Regions from separate parts of the Homo sapiens genome. Here regions 1 and 3 are each linked to region 2. The links come from fine-mapping of genetic effects on gene expression. A gene starts in region 2. Each other region holds a variant in brackets. All regions are shown on one strand. Distances are between the middles of the regions.

Region 1 (5,608 bases), 160 kb after region 2:
TCATTCAGGGGCCAATCAATCACCCAGCGCTGAGCTCCCCACCACGAGATGCCTCCATTCTGGCTCCTCTTCAGCTCCCTGGCGATGCCTGTCCTGGTCATTTCTCACCTGCATGATGGAAATCGCCTCCTTGCTGGTCTCTGACTTTCTCTCCTCCTCTCATCCATCTTCCACTCAGCAGCCTGAGTGATCTTTCTGAATTGCAAATCAGATCCCATCAGTGTCCTCCTTAAAAGTCTTTTAATGGCTCCCTAGGGTGGTGTTTTTCAACCTTTAAAAAAAAATCCCATGTGCTGGTTTGATAAATAATGATAATAGCTCCTATTTATCAATAGCCACTGTTACTATTTATCAAGCACTTCCTGTGTGCCAGGCCCTGTGCTTGTGATAATTCGTGTAACCCTGACTGGAACAGGCACATGTCTCCTGTTTTAAAGGTGAGGACACAGCTTTAGAGGGAGACGTGTCTTGCTGGAGGTGAGGTCACACAGCTGGCCAAAACCCAGGTCTGATTGGCACCTAAGGGGAGGCTGCCAAACGTGATGTGAGGTGGCCTCTCTATTGCATGCTTCCACACACCCCTTTTATAGTTTGCTATTTCTCCAGGGCCCAGAGTCTCCCTCCAGGTGATGGGGCCTCACCCCTCTGCCCACACATAGATTGCACTCCCTTTTGGAACCATCACCCAGTGTCTGTGGGATAGACTCCAGGACTCTTCTGGTGACCTACAAGGCTTCTGCTGGCCTCTCTCTGTCTCCCCTTCTATGCATCCACTCTACTTATCCTGGTCCCGCCTCTCTGCTTTGGGTTTGCTTCCCCTGCCTCTTCGGATTCTAGCTCATTCTTGAGACTCAACATAAGCATCACCTCCTCCAGGAAGCCATTAATGCCCCAGGCTGGATCAGGGGCCCCGCCTGAATGTTCCTGCTGCATCAGGTACCTCTGCCCTTGATCACGCTCTAGCCAGGTATGTTTCTCCTTTTTCACCTCCTCCAGACTGTGAGTCTATTCATTCATTTGTTCATGTATTCATTTAAGAAATATTTACTGAGTGCCTACTATGTGATAAGCATTGTGCTAGGTACTGCAGATGCTGTAGTGACAAGAACAGACAAGATTCGTATTCTCATGGAAATTACATTTGTAACAAGATGTTGGAATGGAAATTTTGGGCAAGATCCAGGATGAAGTTGGGTACTACATCCCAAAGATGCGGACATGAGGGCCTTGTTCTCGGTGGGGGAGGGGATACTCTACTTTGAAATGTACATGCATGGCTTTGGAGTCAGATGGCCTGGCCTCCAAGCTCAACTCTGGTGCTTAACTTGCTGTGTGCCCTCAGGCAGGTTACATTGCTTCTCTGAGCTGAAAAACAAGTTCACTGATTCAGACCCCACAGGGTTTTGGTTGGGATTAAAAATGTGGGTGATCACCTGGCATTTGGCTGGTATTCAGCTGATGAAAGACCCTTCACTATCCTCCCTTTACCCCACCACAATTGTTCAGCGAGTCCTGCATCTCCAGTTTGGTTTGGAGGTAGCAGGTGCTCCTGGGGCATTCCTGAATCCCAGCCCCCTGGACTTGCCTCTTTTGGACCTCTCCTTCCTTGGGGGATCTGAGACACACCTTTGAGGACAGGGGCAGTGATTTGCACATCTGCCGTCAATGTATTTGATGGCCTAGTTCCACTCACCGCTTCCAAAACTGTGTTTTATTCTTCTCCTAAATTACTAATAACATGAGAATTGAAGAATCTAGATGTTTAAAATCTGTTAAAAACTAAAAACCTAGGAGCAACCAAGATGTCTTTCGATAAGTGAGTGAATAAACAAACGTGGTACAGCTATACAATGGAATATTATTTAGAGATAAGAAATGGACTGTCAGCTTACAAAAGGACATGGAGAAACTTCCAGTCCACATTGCTGAATGAAAGAAGCCAGTTTGAAAAGGCTAGCTAGTGTATGATTCCAACCATATAACATTCTGAAAAAGGCAAAATTATGGAGATGGTAGAAAGATGGGTGGTGGCTAAGAATTGGGAGGAAGTGCAGAGGGATGAAAAGGTGGAGTTCAGGGGCTTTTGAGGGCAGTGAAGCTATTCTGTACACCACTGTAATGCTGGATACATGCCATTTGCCAAAATCCATGGAATGTATGACACAGATGGTTAACCCCAATCTAAAGTAAGGACTTTCATTATTAATAAGGTGTCAGTACTGGTTGATCAGTTGCAACAAGTGCAATGGCAACACTCATGCAAAATGTTGACAGTGGGGGAAGCTGTGAATGTGAGGGCAAGGGGAATACACAAGAAGCCTCTGTATTTTACACTCACATTTTCTGCAAACATAAAACTGCTCTAGAAAATAGTCTAAATAAAATAAAATAAAATAAATAAAGTTGATTCCTTTGAAGAGCACAAATCTCATGTACCCCAGGCACCAGGGGTTCTCCTCTGGGATTTCAGGCTGCAGGTTTTGTGCTGTAGAGGAAGGAGTCCAGCTGTGGGCTGGGCTACACCCTCCTCACATACGTTTGTGGCCAGAGCCCAAACCTCTGGGACTGGTCCCAGCACAGGCCGTAATCACCTGTGGAAAGTTGAGAGCAGTGCTGGCCCACAGAAACATACAGCGAGCCACATGTGTAGGAGGTTTTTTAGTAGCCAGGTAAAAAGGAACAGGAGAAATAAACTTTAATACTATAATTTAACCCAATTATCCAAAATATTATCATTTCAACATGTAATTCATATAAAAATTACTAGTGAGGTATTTTGCATTCTTTTTTTTCCACACTAAGTCTTTGAAAGCTGGCGAGTGCTTAAGACTCATCTCAATTCAGACTCAATTCAGGCTGTGTTTCCAGTGCTCCGTAGCCTCCTGGAGTCTGTGGTCACTTCAGTGGACAGCACAGGTTCAGATGGTCACTGGGCCATGTGGGGAACCAGGAGGTTGTTCAGGGAGGCTCCTCCCCACCATCTCCTTCCCTCCTTTGTTCCTTCCCGTGTCGAG[G/A]GTGTGCCAATTAAAAATTAATTTTTAGAGGTGCACTCGTCTCGCAGACTCCTTGGGGCCAAGTGTCTGTGCCCAAGGCTCTGTGCACTCGAGGCAGAGGCAGACCCATCTTAGTGAAGCTGCTGCAGCTTCATTCCACCACAGCGGGTGGATTTTTCTCCTTCCCCTACCTGCACTTTGATTATTTAAGACAGAGCTAAATGTGAGGGAGAATGGGGTCCCACAGAGCTGCAGGCTAACTTTGCCCCAGAAGAGCCTCTTATGGGGAAAATCCTCTTAGCAACATCGCCAGAATAAAATGGTATTCCTTAGCTTGCCATCCCTGCTGAGACAAGGAGAGCACAGGCTATGTGCGGATTCTTCAGCTGTTTCCCTTTCTGTGTCCATGACAGACATCACTAATCAATCTCAGCTCTTTCTGAACTATCTGCGCCTGCATCCTCTCTGTACTCCACCTCCTGCTCCAGGCAGACAATCCTGATTGATAGACTACAGACAACCAGTTGGCTCTCCCTCTCCAGTTTGCTATCCTGCTCTATGAGATGGCCCATCTCATCTTTCCAACATTACTTCTCATTGCACCCTTCTCTCCATGGACATCACATTCCAGCAGCATCAAATGAGTCTTTATTTTCTTGAACACCTAAAGCCCTGTGTATGGCTGGTCAGGTTGTTCACTGTATACGAGGGCTCCCAGCCAAGGGGTGGGTAGGGCATGGCATATGGCCCAATGCCCGTTCATCAAGCTGTACACTTTAGACTGAGGATGCCTGCACTGGGTTCAAGGTAGCTTTTGTTCAGTTTACACAAAGGCATTATATATTCTAGTAGTGATCTGCGAACAGTCTCCGGCCCTTTGTGTATGCAAATCCTTCTGCCTGGAATGCCCTTTCCCTACCATTTTGTCCTCATTCTTTGAGACCTGCTTCAATCCCTCAAACCCTGTCCAGGTCTAGTGGCAAACACTGCAATTTCCCTTGCGTCTCTCAGCCATGGCTCAGCTCACAGCCAACCTTATGTAAGAACTAAGTGGGGTCATTTTTATCCACATGGAATTGTGAGCCTCTTGAGTCTGGAGGCTGTGTGTGATTTTCCAGCCTGGGGCAGCCTGGCATAGCCACCTGAAACAGAAGTGCACGGACTTGACCAAACCAGACATTTCTAATGAAGTTTTTTGTTGTTGTTGTTGTTGTTTTGAGATGGAGTCTCACTCTGTTGCCAGGCTGGAGTGCAGTGGCACGACCTCAGCTCACTGCAACCTCTGCCTCCTGAGTTCAAGCAATTCTCCTGCCTCAGCCTCCTGAGTAGCTGGGACTACAGGCACCCGCCACCACACCCAGCTAATTTTTGTATTTTTTGTAGAGACAGGGTCTCACCATCTTGGCCAGGATGGTCTCGATCTCTTGATCTCGTGTTCCGCCTGCCTCGGCCTCCCAAAGCGCTGGGATTACAGGCATGAGCCGCCGCGCCTGGTCCTAATGAAGTTCTAAGACAGACCAGGCTGCGACCACTAGCGACATGAACAGGCAGCACTTACGGAATGCTTCCCCCGTGCCCGCACAGCTCTAAAGACAGCATGGGCGATCTCAGTTAGTGCTTGCAACAAGGCCATGAGGTGGGGGTTATCACTGCTGTCCCTGGTTCATGGATGGGAGTGGCAGAGGGAATGAGTCACAGACAGATTGAGAACCTGCCCCGGGGTATGGGACTGGGTTAGGGACAGGTGTGCTGACTCCAGGCTCCTGCTTATCATTTTCTCTAGGCACCCCCATCACCTCCCACTGTACTGATGGTTCAGCTTTTCCATCATGGATGTGGGAGGGTGGTTAAAGAGCATTAACAGTAATAACAACAGCAGCGGTAACTCGTTCTTAGGGACACTCCACCTGTACCAGACACTGTTCTGAGTGCTTTCTGCAGATCACCTTGATTGTGCCTGCATGTCTGTGCCAAATGCTGGACACGCATCTCAAAGTGGGCATAGCCTCTCCCCACCTTTTGTTCCTGCTGAGTAAACTGAGGCCCGAGGTTCTCGCAGCTAGCAAGTGCTGGCTCCTGGATTTGCCTTGGGGGCCTGCCTGGCTTTCATGCCTGGCCTCGGGCTCCACGTGCTGCTGCCCCTCAAAGTCCCCTCCCACAGGGCAGGGAGTCTAGGGTGTTCCTGCCTTCCAAAACCTAAGTTTATCCCCTGGGGGAGGTAGCAGAGCCCACTTGGTGGGCACATGAGCCCTGGGGGCAGCCTGCTTGGTCCAAATCCCAGCTCTGCCACTCACCTGTCGAGAGCCTTGGTGAGTTGCTCAACATCTCTGTGCCTCAGTTTCCTCAGCTTTAAAATAGATGCAATGCTAGGCCTGTTGCTGTGGTTGCTATGGACACTGAATGAGACAACATGTTGATGCGCTTATACGCTTAAACATACAGGAAACGTTAACCTCTCACTATGATACCCAGCACCGCTGAAGGCGGCAGCTAGAGAGGATGGAGCCTGGACTTTGGAGACGGGTCCTGGCATTGCACAAATTGCACATCCTCTCTGGATCTCAGTTTCCTCACCTGCAAAACAGGTGTGAGAATCTCTACCTGGAGTTACTTCG
Region 2 (5,608 bases):
CTAATTTTTTGTATCTTTAGTAGAGACAGGGTTTCACCATGTTGGCCAAGCTGGTCTCAAACTCCTAACCTCGTGATCCGCCAGCCTCGGCCTCCCAAAGTGCTGGGATTACAGGCGTGAGCCATCAATTCTTAATTTCTAAAGCCCACCAACAGCAAGTCCTCGCTGGTCAATCTTATGTATGACCCTGATCTTGACACCAAGCTATCAACTCATAAAAACGTGCCAAGGGTCTGCTAGCTTTGAGAGTTGTATCCCCATCTATAGCATTTCAGACATGTTGTCTCTGTGACAGCAGCTTGGACTGGTGACCTGCCATGCTCTGCACTGGGAAGACATCTCAGCATGTGTGGATGATGTTGTAGGTGCCGGCAACTGCCTTGGAACAGGGCTGCACGTAAGGAGTGTTTAACAGTGAGCCATCAGATCAAGGGTGCCAGGGCCAAGAGCTCCAGAATAAATACATTCCATTCTTACCTTACACTGTTGCTGATTTAATTGTGCTTTAAAGTCAGTCAATTGTCAACCCAGTGTGGAAACAGGGATGTTTCTTCACGTGTCTATTGTGAGGTTAGGGGAACATGGTCACACTATGACAGATAAGTCCTGTTCCAAGTTTTCTTAACATATGTGTGTATTTGTGTGGGTGTGGGTGTGGGTGTGTGTGTCTTTCTCTCAGTGGATTCTGGCCACAGAGTCTTGCTGGGGGATTCCACACCCATGAGATGTGTGAATCTTGAGACTTTTTTGCTGACAGATTTTATCGAGTGCTCACCTTGCCCATGCTCTGTTAGGGTCTCAACAGGAAGCAGATGACATAATTCCAAATAGGGTAATTTGAGGAAGGTTATTTGCAATGAGACTATTTACAACGGTGTTGGGGGTAGGAACCACGAGGGAGGATGCAGTAACTTGTGGGTCAGCAGCAGCCGTGATGTCATCACTTCCAGACCTGAGGCACAAAGGGAAGGGCTACTACCGCAAACTGGAGGGAGGGCCAGGGAGCAGTGACCTTCAGCTGAGGGACCTGCCAACTGGAGGTGACCTTGCCAGTCAGGATCCAGGGGCTTAACCTACTCTAACCAACCTTTCTTTTTCCTCCAATCTTCTGTGGGGTTCTCCACTGGGCACGCCCCAAAGCCAGGGGGCACAGGGAGCGCGAAGTAATTTGTAGAGGTCAGCCTCCTGGGGCAGAGGGCAGGCAGGAGAAGTATTTGGAGCAGATGAGGGTATCTGGAGGGGAAAATGTAAGACATCAGGCACAATATTGCCCTGTCTAATGGACAGAGTGATTCCAGGTTTTGTAGGGACTGAAGCTCACATAATTTTGGGGGATCTACTTTAAGAAAAATCAGCTGGGTGTGGTGGCTCATGCCTGTAATTCTAGCACTTTGGGAGGCTGAGGCGGGGTGGATTGTTTGAGCTCAGGAGTTCAAGACCAGCCTGGGCAACATGGTCAAACCCTGTCTCTACAAAAAATACAAAAATTAGCCAGAAGTGGTGGCCTGTGCGTGTAATCCCAGCTACTCGGAGGGTTGAGGTGGGAGGATTGCTTGAGCCCAGGAGGTCGTGGCTGCAGTGAACCGAGATCGCGCCAATGCATTGCAGCCTGGGTGACAAAGTGAGACTATATCTTTAAAAAAAAGAAAAAGAAAAGTAAAATCGACAAATAAACCCCCAAAGCTATGTAAACTCATTGAGGGACCTGCGCAAGTGAGGTCCTGAAGCTTACGCTTCATTGGCTTCATTGTTAATCTCCCTCTGCCTGTGACTTCAGTGATTTTGACCTAGAACAATGACCCAGTGCCCAATAAGCTCTCAGCCTCATGGGTGATGGAGACTTAGCTGATTATAATAAACACAATGCGGCCGGGCGCGGTGGCTCACGCCTGTAATCCCAGCACTTGGCGAGGCCAAGGCGGGCGGATCACAAGGTCAGGAGATCGAGACCATCCTGGCTAACACGGTGAAACCCCGTCTCTACTAAAAACAGAAAAAAATTAGCTGGGCGTGATGGCGAGCGCCTGTAGTCCCAGCTACTCGGGAGGCTGAGGCAGGAGAATGGCGTGAACCCGGGAGACGGAGCTTGCAGTGAGCCGAGACTGTGCCACTGTACTCCAGCCTGGGCGACAGAGTGAGACTCCGTCTCAAAAAAATAAATAAATAAAAATAAATAATAAACACAATGCAAACTGTGGCATACGTTGATTACAGATGAAACACTATAGATGATTAGGTAGACATTGAGATATGCTTTGAAATAGGCTTCGAAAAACAGGTAGGATTTAGACACATATCAATGAGTGGGCAGAATAATACTAACACTATCTGCTATTTATTGAGCACCAACTAAGTTTAAAGTACTGCCTATAGATTATTTCATTTAATCCTAACAGAAACAGGAAACTTATTTTACACCCAACTCTCTGCCAATACACTTAATAAATCAAGCTACTACGAACAAGGCTGTAAACCACATTTCCTAGAAGACCAGGGAGCAGAAGGACGGGGATCTCCCTTTGCCGCTAAGAGACTCCAACTCCCAGGATGCCTTGGGAGCGCTGGACCACAGCTCCCGGCATTCCCGGGGAGGCGCGGGGCTAGCGTAGCCTCCGCCCCGCGCCTCGCGTTACCACTCGTCCCGCCCCTCCTCGTCGCCTCCGAGCCAATGGGAAGGCTCCATACTGCAGGGTGCGAAGGGGCCGGCGCCGCTGCCGAGTTACGAGTCGGCGAAAGCGGCGGGAAGTTCGTACTGGGCAGAACGCGACGGGTCTGCGGCTTAGGGTAGGGAGGCCGCAGGCGACACGGCTCGAGGACTCGCGCGCCGAGCCGGGGGCGCGGAGGCGGGCGGCCGGGGCTGGGGCCGGCACTGGGCCTTCCGGGCGGCCTGTGGGTCCACCGGGGTGCGGGAGTCGCCGTCAGCCTCGGTCGCCCCGCGGGACCGCGCTCCGCCGCGTGGCTTCCGCCTGCGCGGGCGTCCGCTCCTTCCTTGTCTCGTTCAGGCCCCGCAGGCGCCCCCGGGGATGCCTGGACTGGCCAGGCCGGCCCCCATCTGAGCTCCACGTTCTGGACGCGCGTGGTGTCGCGGCCGAGCTCGCAAACGCCGCCTCGGGCCTCACCGGGAAGCCGGTTCTGTCAGGCGGGGCTCCGGGTGAACAGCGCAGGCGAGGCCCCTGCCCCGCAGAGCTCACTCTGTAGAAGGGAAACAACACACGCAGCTGCGATGTTTTGCGGATACGGAAATGCTTTCTTAGAAACGGGACAGGCAGTTGCGGGCTAGAGGAATGGGGGCGAGGCTCTTTAGGTTAGGTGATCCGGGAGGGCATCTCAGAGGATGTGACCTTTGACTTGAGACCTGAGAGGGGAGGCCGACCCCTGAGGATAGCAGCCAGGCCTGGGGACCGCGAGGCCGCCCGTTATTTCCCTGTCACATCGCGGGGAGGCCCCGTGATCCTGTACTTGAGGGTCTGTCTGGTGCAAGGCAGTTAGAGCCGCTTGTGTGTTTTGCAAGGGACTTTCATAACCGTTTGACAGTTCCTCCTCATTCTGTCCTTACCTGGCAGGGTGGCATCCTTTACTGTTGCAGCTCCATTCAGGGGCAACGCATAGTTTTTCCTACCACCGAAATAGTATTGTGGTTCTCGTCTCAAAACTCTTAGGTGGTAGAATTAAATTCGACAGACAGCAGCAGAGTCAGACACTATAGGTTCCTGTTGAGGCCACCCATTTTTCTGATGTCCTTTCTTTCAAGTCACTCATTTTTGTTTTCCTTTGTATAGACTCTTCCCTTCCCTTTCCTGTGTCCCTTTCTTGGAACAACTTGGAAATACAATTTGCTATTGGGAGGATGTTGGTTTTAGGGAACTGTTGAAGAACTTCATTAATTATTGTGTGTGTGTTTTTCTTTTCTTCTTCTTTTTTTTTAAACTGGAATTGCCCATCTGTTGAGACTGAAATTCAAGAGTAAAAAAAAGTAGGGCAGCATTTATTTTCAAGAGTTGACAATAAAGGCACCTTTCTTTATGACATGCTGAGCATGATACTTTGGGGGAGAATTTAATCTAGAATTTTGAAGCATTTTCAGAAGGAAGCAAGGGTTCTTTATATAGTCATTTTATGTAGGTTACGTTTATGTTCTTCAAAATGGCATGTAGTGATTGGAATTAAATTTCTGGGTAGATAAGATTATGTTCATCTGTTACCTATAGAAGGGAATGTAACTTAAGTAGTCACTTAATAATAGCTTTCTCTGTTGATGCTACCACAGATGGTATTCTCTACATCTCAACATTGCTGATCAGATTCTGTGTTAATACAGTAACACAACTTGAATTTAATAACAATAAACTTGTGTTAGGCGTTACTGTCAATTTAGTTCTGGTATCCAGTACAAATACCAGTTTTATAGTGCAATGTCTTCTTGTTATGTTCAGTGCTGCAAAAATTATGAGAGGATATTTGTTAAACAAATGAGATAATGGAGTAATGTGTTAAGCATAGAGCCTGGCATATAGTAAGTTAGTAAGTGCCCAGGAAATGGTTATATGGAAAGCTTATGCTAAGTTTTATTCCAGTATGCAAGTGTGTATTTTAAAAATAACAGTAATGCATTCAAAATGTTGACAGACCCTAAAATTAAATTTCTTAAAGGAAATAGGCCAGCTTTTTTTTTTAACTTTGAGAACTAATGTGAAATAATAATAAATATATAAGTGAAATGTCCCAGATGTCTAGAAATGAAAAAACAAGATTTTAATTTTGACAGCTATATTTTTTTTTCTTAAAAGCATCCCTAATAAGATATAATGTACTATGATTAGGATTATGATTTGAAAAATAAAACTTTAAAAATATTTTTGATTTGAAAAATAAAACTTATTTGGAAATGAAGCGAAGCTTTAAGATTTACCTTATATCAAATGAAGGATGTCTCCTGAATTTATGCAAATGTGCAAATGCTTATATCTCCGTAGATCAGGCAGTGAGCCTAATGGGAATTAAATGCTGCCTCTTTGTGCGTGTGAGTGAGGCTTTCATGAAAATTGCTCTTGATGGGTTCTGAGAATGGATTGGTAGCTGAATAGGACTGGAGAATATTTTTCAGACTGGTAGGATATTTTACATGCTTGCCAGGGTTATTTTTCGGAGTAAGGAGAAATGGACTCATTTATTCAGCAGAGATCACGTGCCCCCTATTTACAAGGAATTGTGCTAGGTGCAAAGTCTATTGCTATTGTAGTGTTTTGCTGAAGCAAGTTTTCTTTGTTTTAAATTAGTGTACGTCTTTTTTTTTTTTTTTTTAACTTTATCTAGCATCCAGCACAGAATAATCCAATAAATGTGTAGGGCGCCTTTGAAAAACTGCACTATTAATGTTAAAATGTAGAAAATGTTTAATAAAGGTACAAGATTAATTTAAAAGGGTGATAGAACCCTAATAAAACATTTAGGTAGGTGTTGTAACCAAGATGTATTTTTACTCTAGGATAAGTTTGGCTCTTTTGATCAAAATTCCTGTGAATATATTTCTACTTGCCATTATAAAGATGCAGAGGGCTCTGTCCTTTGAATTTTTTCCCTTTGGTGCTTGAATGATATTTAAGCACCC
Region 3 (5,608 bases), 93 kb after region 2:
GTTCTAGGACAGTGTATTCCAGGGAAAGTTACAACTGGGAAGTGATTCTATTAGATTGTCCGGTGAAGAGAGAAAAAAGTACATTTACTTCTTGAACTTTTGTAGGTCGAGAAATGTGCCTCCAAGGTTCTTAGGAAGACCTTTGACGTGGATATTTTAGTTCTTCCCTACTCCTTCCCCTGCCCCAACACAAACAGCCTCACGTCTTCATTTACTTCGTTAACTATTATGGAACATTTTGGTGCAAACATGTGAATCAGTTTAACTGGAGAAGTAATAACGTACATCCCAGTCTGCTTGACATTGTAATTGCAGAAGTATATGATCTAATCCCTGTGTACCTCCCCACCCCAAGTTTCTAGTCCAGAAACCCTTGACAGATAATTAAACAGTTATGGCAAAGTATTAGATTGATGCAAAAGTAATTGTAGTTTTTGCCATTTTTTAAATATTGTGCCTTAGCATTCATAATTTTAAGTAGGGTCATTTAGACATTTCTTAAGATATGCACACAGTTGCAATGGGTTTTTTTTTCCTTTTTTTAAGTTTCTAACTAGACTTTCAAAAGAGAAGCCGTCTGTATTCCAGGTGCTACAGTCCCAAAATAAGTCTCTGATATGTCATGCAAAGTGTTCAGAAAGCAAAGGTGGTTGAAATTACATCAAAATGGTTTCCAAGGCCCTGTCTGTTCTTGTAGAGGTCAGAGAAACCACAGCCTGCAAAAACACAATTGAGGCCAAAAATCTGAAACACCTGCTGTTCCCAATGAACTGTGTGATGCACATAGAAAGTGTTTGGAAGGGAGGGTCAAGCTAAGTGAACAGTCATGATAATACCTGGTTGGTCTTGTAGCAGCAAAATTGAGGGGAAATATGAAAGTTTTTAAAATGGATTTTTTTTAATGTTATTGTTGATACCCCTATTTGAATGTAAAGTCCCTAACACAAAGAAGCAAGCTTCCTTTAGACTGCATTTACTGCTCTTGATGACTCCAGTTGTGTGTAAATATTAGAAAACAGCAGGGTCCTGCATTCCAAGAATCACTTGAGCAGTGCCACGAAGACAAGTGTCCTTACTGGTATTGTAGTCATACTCCCAAGCTCTCCTGCTGTTTCTAATCTGTGCGCACAGCCGTGAAAAAACTGGACTGACATTTACAGGCACAGCAGGGAGACACTTGACTAGGGAATGTTGAAGACTACAGCACCTCCAATTCAAAGTGGCCACCACACATGATAAATCTTCACAGGAGAGCCAGTCTGCACTTCAGCTGATGCCATAATGAGGGTATCTGTAATGAAGCAAAAAGCAGAACATTATTCTCCTCTAAACTCAACTTTTTAGCAGTCAGATGTTTATTGTTGCCTTTTTTAAGACCTAAATATCTAAAGGAAAAATCTAATTCTGCGTGGGTGTCGGATCTATTTCTTTGAAACTTTTTTGGAAGGTCTGTTTCCTTACTGCTCAGTCCTTACTAGGGTTTTACAGGAATGTTCCTTAGTAAAAGAGCATTTACTCATCAACTCTGAATAGAAATAACATTTCCTGGAATCTTTTCTAACTGGCATGTAAACGAGGGTCAGTCGCTTTCTGCCTCGAGTTCGGCAGATTTTATTCCCTGTTTTGTCCCAGGGAGCTGCCAGATTCGTATGCCATAATACCAGTAATGCAATTAGGTTTGCTGCACATTGTCTGGTTGACTTCTCAGTTAAGAGTTTCTTTCCCTGTGGGAATAAGACTAGACAGACTGCCATTTGCTATTACTAATTCTGCTTAGCATTATCACTGGAGCTTTTTTTGTAATTAGCTATCTTAGTTGGCTCTTAAATTTTAATAGCCAATTGAAGCTACGTTTTCGCCAAGTTCCATATCTAAATTGCATTCAGTCCATTAACAAAGTTGGTTAAAAGGCTATTAAAAGCCAATATATGGTGGTTCGCACTTTCATCTTTGCGGCAGTAGCAATGCTGGCTTCCTCCGAGTTCTCTAAAGGAACTTACTCTCCTCAAAGTTACACATAAACTGGACACAACTTCTGAGCGGCAAGAAATTAATGACAAGATTTTTAGCATGCTAACATATTTCAAAAATGTCACTGCCTACCCCCTTTGCCTTTTGGTGAGGGTTCTTCCAGGGTTTGGTTTCATTTGGTTGATGGCGATGAAGGAAGGAAGAAAGACATTTAATATTGTAACTTAAAATTGATGGTTTTTGAAAAGTGAATAATTGAAATGATGTTTTTCTCCATTTTAGCTTATCAAAATTATTAGCAAAACCATCTGAGGCACCTTCTGGTAGAATTATAGTCTCGCTGGGTTTAGTTTGTAAAACATTCTGCCAGACATTTAAAAAAAAAAAAATTGTAGTGGAGCCAACACATAGGCTCAGAGCACTCTTTGCCTAATTGATAGTCCTCGTTATTATTATGGTTAAAGTCAGAAGACCATTTCTAACACTCCCCCACCCTTGGCAAATTAGTTTACCATGATTTTAATTTCTACATTGAGTCCCCCTTCCTCCAAATTGGAACGTTAGTTCAGTTTTCCATTTTCAAAGGTACTTAATTTCAAAAATTTTTACAATTTGTAATGCAGGCTGTCAAAAGAA[A/AT]TTAGACTGGTACAGGGTGCATTCAGTGTACATTTATCTCTGAATCGTTAGTATCCTGGGAATGAAGACGTGGAGAGAAACTAGTGGGCAAATACATCCTGTCACCTTGACTCAGTCCAGTGCAACTGAAACAGCCCTCCACCCCCACCCTGCCCCATTTTGCCAGTGTCCTATTTTGAAAAGAATAGTTTTTCTGTTTCAAAAATCTACAGATTTTTTAAGACTCCAAATGATGGCTTTTTCTATTGCCCCATTCAGAAGCTATTAGAAATTGTATTTAATCTTAAATTTTTCAAAGTCACAAGAGGTTCAAATACTTTCCATCTCCCTCTATTTGACCATTCTTCCATAGCTAGCTTTCTCTATCACCCCCAGAACTGTGATCAGGCTTTGTCTTTGATGATGTTATCTTCCCTACTGAAAGCCACCTGGCAGACAAAATCTGGGTGGAGGTAATTCTGCTAAAATTACGTTTCCATTTTAGGAGTCCATATTCACATGGGATTTTTCATACAAGTTTACTTTTTCAGTCTTTGGCTAGATGGCTGAGGCAACATCAATGAAAGTATAAGAGCTTCACATGTCTTAGCAAAGCAACAGCTGGATGGTCTCTGATGATTTTTGTTCTATACCAGAAGCTGATAGAAAAGGACAAGAGAGGTCATTTTATCCATGTTAAGATTATAATGCAGTAAAATTAATATGTTATTGTATATGTAACTAATTGAGCTTTAATAAAAATAAAACTGGCTTTAAAAATCATGTCACAAAACTCTCTAAGAGATGAGTTTGATGGCTTCTCCTATGGAAGACAAAGCAAGAACAGCCCTGCTGTGTGTTTTTTGTTTTGTTTTGTTTTGTTTTTTGAGATGGAGTCTCTGTCGCCCAGGCTGGAGTGCAGTGGTGTGATCTTTTGGGTGCTAACTTTCCCATGCTCCTGAATTGCACATGTGGAATGCAATGTTCCTGGTAGGCATCTCATACAACCCCTAGAGAAGGAAAGGAGAGGGGCCTTCAGGAACCTGGTAGAAGCCTGGGCAGAGTTGGCTGACGTCACTTGGTCTGGAATGAGAGAGGATTTGACATTGCACACAGTACAGGAGGCACCTCACGTGTTACCATGTGATTCACTTAAGGTCTTTTCTCTTGGACTGGTCTATTTCCTTAGAGAAGGTTCTATCTGTTGCCCAGAGGGCTGAATTTTGAAGACCATAGTTAAGAGAGCACCATCCAATTCATCAGCTTTGCCTTTTAGGGATTATGCTTTTGGTGTCTGGTCTAAGAATTTGGCCTAGCCCTAGATTCTGAAGATTTTTCAATTTTCCCTGAAAGTTCTAGAGTTTTATGTTCTACATCTAAGGCTTTGATCTATTTTGAGGGTTTTTTTATATCTATATAAGCTGTGAGTTTCGAGTCAAGATTCTGCTTTTTGCCTATGGATGTCCAATTGTTTCAGAACAATTTTATTATTACTATTATTTTATTTTTTCCAAGACTGAGTCTCGCTCTGTTGCCCAGGCTGGAGTGCAATGGCGCAATCTCAGCCCACTGCAACCTCCGCCTCCCGGGTTCAAGCAATTCTCCTGCCTCAGCCTCCCAAGTAGCTGGGATTACAGGCATGCGCCACTAGGCCCGGCTAATTTTTGTATTTTTAGTAGAGACAGGGTTTCACCATGTTGGCCAGGCTGGTCTCAAACTCCTGACCTCGTGATCCATCCACTTTGACCTCCCAAAGTTCTGGGATTACAGGCGTGAGCCACCGCGCCTGGCCTCAGAACAATTTTTTGAAGAGACTTTTCTTCCTCTTCTGAATTGATTTTGCACCATCAGAAAAAATTAGACATATTTGTAGATGAGTCTATTTGTGGATTTTCTATTCAGCTAGCTCTATGTCCACTGATCTGCCAGTATCACACTGTTTTGATTACTGTAGCTATATAGTGAGCTTTGGTATTAGATTCCTCCCGCTTGGTCATTTTTAAAGATTGGTTTAGCTATTCGAGAACTTTTGCCTTTCTATACAAATTTTAGAATGAAATTGAGGTCTACAAAAAATGGTATTGAAACTACAGACAATTTTGGGAGAACTGACATCTTTATTGTGTTAAATCTTTCGATCTATGAACACAATACTTTGTTGTTGTTGTTGTTGTTGTTTAGGTCTTTGAGTTTCAATATACAATCCTGTACTTAGTTTGTTAAGTGTATACCTAAGAATTTAACTTTTTTCTGAAGCAGTTGTAAATGGTTTTGTGTTTTTTTTTTGGTGGGGGGGGAGGGGTTGAAGTCTTGCTCTGTTGTCCAGGCTGGAGTGCAGTGGTGTGATCTCAGCTCACTGCCACCTCCACCTCCCAGGTTCAAGCAATTGTCCTGCCTCAGCCTCCAGAGTTGCTGGGATTACAGGCACCCGCCACCACGCCCGACTAATTTTTGTATTTTTGGTAGAGATGGGGTTTCACCACGTTGGCCAGGCTGGTCTCCAACTCCTGACCTCAGGTGATCCGCCCACCTCGGCCTCCTCAAGTGCCGGGATTACATGTGTGAGCCACCGTGCCTGGCAGGTATTGTTTTTAATTTCAGTTTCCACAGATTCATTGTTAGTGTAAAGAAATACAATTTTTGAGTTTTGTGTTTTGCTGTCACATTGACGAATTTACTATTTATCAATTTTAAAACTTAAGTATTGAGTTCTTATTATGATAGATGAGATTTTAGCTCTCTTGTACTCTTCCCCTTCCCCTATCCTTTCGTACAATTAGGTATTTTTAGATAAATTGGTAGTCAGGGTTTACATTGTTTCAACTAGGTAGATATTACTTATTTCAGTGTATTGTGATGTCGTTTCCTTTTTTGGTAAAACTTTTTGCTTCTGTTGGAATTAAAAATTGCCTCATTAATCTTTTTCTAAGTTTTTTACATATTTTTGACTATTTACAGTTATTCCATCAGATCTATTATAACACCCACCAGTAGTTTTTTATTTCACATGTTCAATCATATC

The links. PIP is the estimated chance that this variant, and not a neighbour inherited with it, causes the effect. A credible set is the group of variants that fine-mapping cannot tell apart.
Region 1: its variant is the best candidate, but not a certain one, in a credible set for the expression of VRK1 in whole blood (INTERVAL, PIP 0.87).
Region 3: its variant is the best candidate, but not a certain one, in a credible set for the expression of VRK1 in whole blood (INTERVAL, PIP 0.55).

The regions. Positions count from the first base shown.
Region 1 is chr14:96,953,607-96,959,214 of GRCh38, forward strand. No RefSeq gene overlaps it. Among named protein-coding and RNA genes, the nearest start is that of LINC00618, 13 kb to the left of the region's middle. The variant G/A (reference allele first, on the strand shown) is at 3,015.
Region 2 is chr14:96,794,664-96,800,271 of GRCh38, forward strand. VRK1 (VRK serine/threonine kinase 1) reads left to right here and starts at 2,719. Exons shown (of 13, transcript NM_003384.3): 1 at 2,719-2,784. RefSeq lists silencers at 2,601-2,800, 2,811-3,100 and an enhancer at 3,045-3,576.
Region 3 is chr14:96,887,667-96,893,274 of GRCh38, forward strand. No RefSeq gene overlaps it. Among named protein-coding and RNA genes, the nearest start is that of LINC00618, 53 kb to the right of the region's middle. The variant A/AT (reference allele first, on the strand shown) is at 2,608.